2 separate regions of the Homo sapiens genome follow, and region 2 is linked to region 1. The links come from fine-mapping of genetic effects on plasma protein levels. Region 1 holds a variant in brackets. A gene starts in the other region. All regions are shown on their reverse strands.

Region 1 (2,910 bases):
GGCAGAAACACAGGAGGAAATCAGTGCGGAAGTTTCTGCAAAGGTATGCTTGGGTGGCTTCGGTGTCTGGTGTGTTCTTAAAAATACTGGCTTGTCAATAGCTTTTTTTTTTGAGATGGAGTCTCCCTCTGTCACCCAGGCTGGAGTGCAGTGGCATGATCTCAGCTCAGTGCAAGCTCCGCCTCCCGGGTTCATGCCATTCTCCTGCCTCAGCCTCCCGAGTAGCTGGGACTGCAGACGCCCGCCACCATGCCCGGCTAATTTTTTGTATTTTTAGTAGAGACGGGGTTTCACCGTGTTAGCCGGTATGGTCTTGATCTCCTGACCTCGTGATCTGCCTGCCTCAGCCTCCCAAAGTGCTGGGATTACAGGCGTGAGCCACCGCGCCCGGCGTTGTCAATAGCTATTAACTGACCCTCAGCACTGATTGTGTGGACAGTACTCTCTGCCTTACTCCAGTTAAGGATAGAGGGCTGTGATCAAGCATTCATGTGTCATGGAATTCTCATCCCTCAGGAGCTGCTACCTCTGTCTTTTTATTCTCTCCATTTTCGTCCTCTGTACATGGTTTATCATTATTTTTTAATTTTAATATATTCTTCGCTGAGTTTGGTGGCTTATGCTTGTAGTCCCAGCACTTTGGGACACCAAGGTGGGGGCAGACTGCTTGAGCCCAGGAGTTTTAGACCTGAGCAACATGAAGAAACCCCATCTCTACAAAAAATACATATATTAGCCAGGCTTGGTGGTGCACATGTGTATCCCAGTTACTCAGGAGGCTGAGGTGGGAGGATCACTTGAGCTTGGGGAGATTGAGGCTTCAATGAGCTGTGATCATGCTACTTTGCTTCAGCCTGGATAACAGAGTGAGACCCTGCCTCAAAAGAAAAAAAAATTATTGTCGGTTTTTTTTTTTTTTTAAGAGACAGAGTCTTGTTCTGTCGCCCAGGCTGGAGGGCAGTGGCGTGATCTCGACTCACTGCAAGCTCCGCCTCCTGGGTTTACGCCATTCTCCTGCCTCAGCCTCCTGAGTAGCTGGGACTACAGGTGCCCACCACCACGCCCAGCTAATTTTTTGTATTTTTAGTAGAGACGGGGTTTCACTGTGTTAGCCAGGATGGTCTCGATCTCTTGACCTCGTGATCTGCCCGCCTCGTTTTCCCAAAGTACTGGGATTACAGGCATGAGCCACTGCACCCAGCCATCTTTTTTTTTTTTTTTTTTTTTTTTAATAAAGATGGAGTCTGTTGCCCAAGCTGGTCTGGAACTCTTGGGCTTAAGCAATCCTCCCGCCTTGTCCTCCCGAAGTGCTGGGATTACAGGTGTGAGCCAGCATGCCCAGCCTCTGCATGTTGTTTTAAACTTTAATATCTCCACATAAAACTGGAAAGAATTGGT[A/T]AGGAAATGGTCAAACTGTGGTACATCCATATCATAGAATGAAAAGGAGGTAGATTTATATGTAATTAGACTGAGTGCCATTTACATCACTCTTCTGTTTTTCTCTTCAGTGGAACTAAGCCTCTCCTTGTTTTTTCTTTTCAGTGTTGTAAAAGCATTTCTTAGGATTTATGCAATTGCTAATTTGACCAACGGTGCTATTTTGTTTCAGAAGGTAAATCCTAGTAATTAGGTATTTTGGTTACAGCTTAAATCTGTACATTTAAACCTAGGCATTTTATTACCATACCCAGAAGAAAAAGTCATAAAGAGAGACAGCCTAGACAATGACCAATCTGTGATGATCCTTGGAAGCATGTCGGAAGTGACAAAGGTGCCACTGGTTTCATTGGAACATAGGACTCGTTTATGGTTACAGTCTCAATGCTGGCAGTAAGGATGCCTTCATTGTTAAGTGTGGATCTTTAGCTCTTCCACTTATTTTCAGACTGGAAATGGAGCAGGAGAAACCCTTGTTGCCTTTGCATTCACTTTCATTTTCAGATGTCTGCTTACCTCATTCTTTCTCCTCACAGGCAGAAAAAGTACATGAGTTAAATGAAGAAATAGGAAAACTCCTTGCTAAAGCCGAACAGCTAGGGGCTGAAGGTAATGTGGATGAATCCCAGAAGATTCTTATGGAAGTGGAAAAAGTTCGTGCGAAGAAAAAAGAAGCTGAGGTTGGTGAGATAAGTGCCTTAGGGCAAGAGAAATCTTAGTAATTTGGCAGCGTTGACCGTTGGAATTAATTGAGCCCATGCTTGCTCCCATTTTTTAAAAAATTTATACATTTTGGGCCCAGCACAGTGGCTCACGCCTGTCATCCCAGCACTTTGGAAGGCCGAGGCGGGCGGATCACGAGGTCAGGAGATAAGACCATCCTGGCTAACACAGCGAATCCCCGTCTCTACTAAAAATACAAAAAAATTAGCCGGGCATGGCGCCAGGCACCTGTAGTCCCAGCTGCTCCGGAGGCTGAGGAAGGAGAATGGCGTGAACCCGGGAGGCGGAGCTTGCAGTGAGCTGAGATTGCGCCACTGCACTCCAGCCTGGGCGACAGAGCGAGACTCTGTCTCAAAAAAATTTATAAACGCTGTTTTTGCAAGCAGTTTTAGCTTCATAGCTAAATTGAGAGGAAAGTACAGAGATTCTCCATGTACCCTCTCCTCAGACAGCCTCCTCCATTCCTAGCATCTGCCCACAGTCAGTGGGTCTACGTTGACTTGTCATTATCACCCAAAGTCTGCAGAAAATGTTAGGTATGTCATGAATACATAAAATATATGAGGATACTAGTCTTTTATTTACTGCCATAAAATATACACAAGTCTATTATGAAAAGGTAACATTTGTCAAAACTTAAGCATATGGCCAGCTATGGTGGCTCTTGGCTTTAGTCTCAGCTGTTCGGGAGGCTGAGATGAGAGGATCCCTTAATCCTAGGACTTTTGGAGTCCAGCCTGGATAACATAG
Region 2 (2,910 bases), not on the chromosome of region 1:
GACCACCCCTCTTAGTGAAATCTTCCTTGATTCCCTTTTTGTCTCCTACCTGAGGCAGTGTAAGCTGAACTCCTCCTCAGTGCTCCTCTAGAGCTCCTGTGTCTGTCCCTGTTTAGCCCTCTTCCCCTGTCCTGTGTTCTGCACTAGACCATGAACCACTCAAAGGCAGCCTCTGTGTTCTAATCGGCTGACCAGCAGACTGAAGGAATCAGCTGCCACCTACTCAGAAATCCTTACCAAGCACAGTGCACTGTGCCAACTGCTCTGCATCATTTTCTCATTTAAACCCCATAACAACCATAGGAGGCTGGCATCATTTAATCTCATTGTACAGACTAGGTGTTGCCAGCCTCTCAACTAATGGCCCAGCACTTAGCACAACTCCTGGAATATTGTTGGTGCTCAATAAATGTTTGTCCAGTGAACAACTGAGTGAATCCAACACAATTACCCTATGAACACCCCCTGAAAATGGCCCTCCACAGATCCTCAGATCCAACACAGTCAGCGGCTACTCCTCACTCCTCCCCTGATCCCAGGTTGCAGTGATTTCTAGCACTTGCCTGTGTTTTCCTGGCCTTGATCTCACTTTCTAGTGGATCAAAGTGATGGCAGTGATGATAGGGCTTGTTTTCCAAAATTTTTTGTTGTGGTGAAATGCATATAAAATAAATTTTACCATCTTTTTTTCTTTTTAGATGAGTCTTGCTCTGTCGCCCAGGCTGGAGTGCAGTGGCGCGATCTCAGCTCACTGCAACCTCTGCCTCCCAGATTCAAGCGATTCTCTTGCCTCAGCCTCCCAAGTAGCTGGGATTACAGGCTCCTGCCACCACGCCCGGCTAATTTTTGTATTTTTAGTAGAGATGGGGTTTCACCATGTTTGCCAGGCTGGTCTCGATCTCCTGACCCTGTGATCCACCCGCTCGGCCTCCCAAAGTGCCGGGATTACAGGCGTGAGCCACCACACCCGGCAAATTTTGCCATCTTAACCATTTGTAAGCAGCATATAACCCAATGTGATTAAATACATTCCTAGTGTTGTCCCACCATCACCACCATCCATCCTTTTTTTTTTTTTTTGAAAAAGACGAAAGTCTAAACACAATGGAGACGGGGTCTCACTATGTTGACCAGTCTGGTCTTGAACTCCTGGCCTCAATTGATCCTCCCATCTCAGCCATCCAAAGTGCTGGGATTACAGGTATGAACCACCGCACCCGGCCCCATGTTTATAACTCTTTTAATCTTGTAAAACCAAGTAAAAATCTTGTAAAAACGCTGTACCTTTTAAACAAAACTCCCCATTTCTTCCTCCCTGCAGCCCATGGCAACCATCATCCTACTTTCTGTCTCTATGATAAAATAGGGTTTCTTGGGTAGAAATCAGGGCCTCGGGGCCTAGAAATGGGGTGAGGGACTCAGGGGAGACTTACCCACATGAGAAGCCAAGAAGAGGATGGGGAGCAAGAAAGGGGGCACCCGCCAGACCATACTCCAGAGGCCGACCCAGGCCAGCCAGGACGAGCTGGGCCTGGGGTCAGATGCTGTGGGCCTGACTGCTCAGCCTGTGTTGGTCAGTGTGGGTCGGTGCTGGGGAGGAAGAGGAAATGAGGTGGCTTGGGTGGGAGGGGTGGCAGGGTAGGGGGTGGGAGGACTCATTCTGCCTTTGAGCCTCTAGGCCCCCCAATCTGGCCCCCACAAGGCTGGGGATGGGTGTGGCCTGGGAGGAGTCACTTGAGGTGGGGGGAAGGTTATGGTAAGGGCAGACCTGGGGACAGCTGGACTGATTTTTCCCATCCCCTGTCTCTCTCCAGTACTCAGTCTTGCTGGCACAAAGGAGGCAGGAGGCAGGAAAGGGAGGAAGCCAGTGGCTTCCGCCTATTGAGGAGGGGGGTGGGGTGGGGGACATTGTTCTGGGGTCTCCCCTCCCCCCGGCACAAACACACAATACGGCCCACATGAGTCCTCATGTATGTGCCCCAGGACACAGACAGTTACATGGGTTTCCTAGAGAGCAGTTCACATACGAAACACAAAGGACCTCTGTGGGCCTGAGAAGCACATACACTCAAAGGAACACAGGGCCCTGGCAACAAAGAGCCTTCGAGTCTACCTTGTGTACCTCTCTCATTGTACAGATGGGAAAACTGAGGCTTGCTGTGCTCGAGGGCACCCTGAGGCTGTGGCAAGGCTGGGACTTGAACTTCTGACTTAGTCCTTGCTTTCTTGGTGCCAATCGCTCCACAAGGGCTCACATTAAGCAGTCCCGGGGAGCACACAGGGAGTATCGGTTGCATAGATAGTCCTCAGCTTAAGCTGCTAATGAAAGCTTCAGCTTATTGTCTGCCAGGTGTCATTCATTTTGCGGCAAACCCCTGCCTATTCCTGGGCACTGGGGCAGCAGAAGTCTGCCCAGGGAGGTGCACTCACTCTTGACGGCTGACAACAACCTGGGAGCAGTCGCACTGCTTTGGCAAAGTCTCTAAAGCCCCATGGATCTTGCCTCTGCTTCCCTCCCAGACTCACCTCTCCCTGCCCTGGCACCCGTTGCTCCACCTCTTGCCACCACTGGCAGTTCCCAGAACGGAACAAGACCTGTAGGTACAGAACGCCCACGAGGAGGCCCTTCCAGGGAGCAGAGGGAGCAACCGTTGGATGGGCAGCCTTGCTGGTTAAATCGATGACCCCTCTGACCCGGAATGGAATGGTTGGGATGGATGAGACTTGGTGTCAGTTTAGGTGACTTAGGTCTGGTAGTACAAACCCTCCCCCTGGGCCTGGGACATCTTCCCAGAGTGTGTTCTGGGTGAAGGCTTCATTCTCCTCTGAATGCACCGGGCTCACATTCACTTTTCTCAGGAGGCTGGGTCCCTGCAGCTTGGTTGAGCTGGTTTAGGCCCAGGGCTCTTC

Alleles and levels. Alleles are on the strand shown, and positions count from the first base shown. The strength of an association depends on the size of the effect and on how common the allele is.
For the plasma level of the protein whose gene starts at base 1,581 in region 2, allele A in region 1 goes with a lower level than allele T (weak association).

What was found. A credible set is the group of variants that fine-mapping cannot tell apart. PIP is the chance, under the fine-mapping model, that this variant and not a neighbour inherited with it causes the effect. Protein levels are from antibody-based Olink assays in UK Biobank. Linkage for the fine-mapping came from a reference panel and not from the study's own genotypes, which makes the PIPs less certain.
Region 2: it holds the start of TIE1, and the variant in region 1 is the best candidate, but not a certain one, in a credible set for the plasma level of the TIE1 protein (UK Biobank, PIP 0.63).

What each region holds. Positions count from the first base shown.
Region 1 is chr16:205,211-208,120 of GRCh38, reverse strand. It overlaps LUC7L (LUC7 like), which reads left to right. Exons shown (of 10, transcript NM_201412.3): 4 at 1-43; 5 at 1,974-2,117. Among named protein-coding and RNA genes, the nearest start is that of LUC7L, 23 kb to the left of the region's middle. The variant A/T (reference allele first, on the strand shown) is at 1,399.
Region 2 is chr1:43,299,653-43,302,562 of GRCh38, reverse strand. TIE1 (tyrosine kinase with immunoglobulin like and EGF like domains 1) reads right to left here and starts at 1,581. Exons shown (of 23, transcript NM_005424.5): 1 at 1,434-1,581. The coding sequence starts at 1,491. RefSeq lists an enhancer at 1,522-1,611 and a silencer at 1,642-1,741.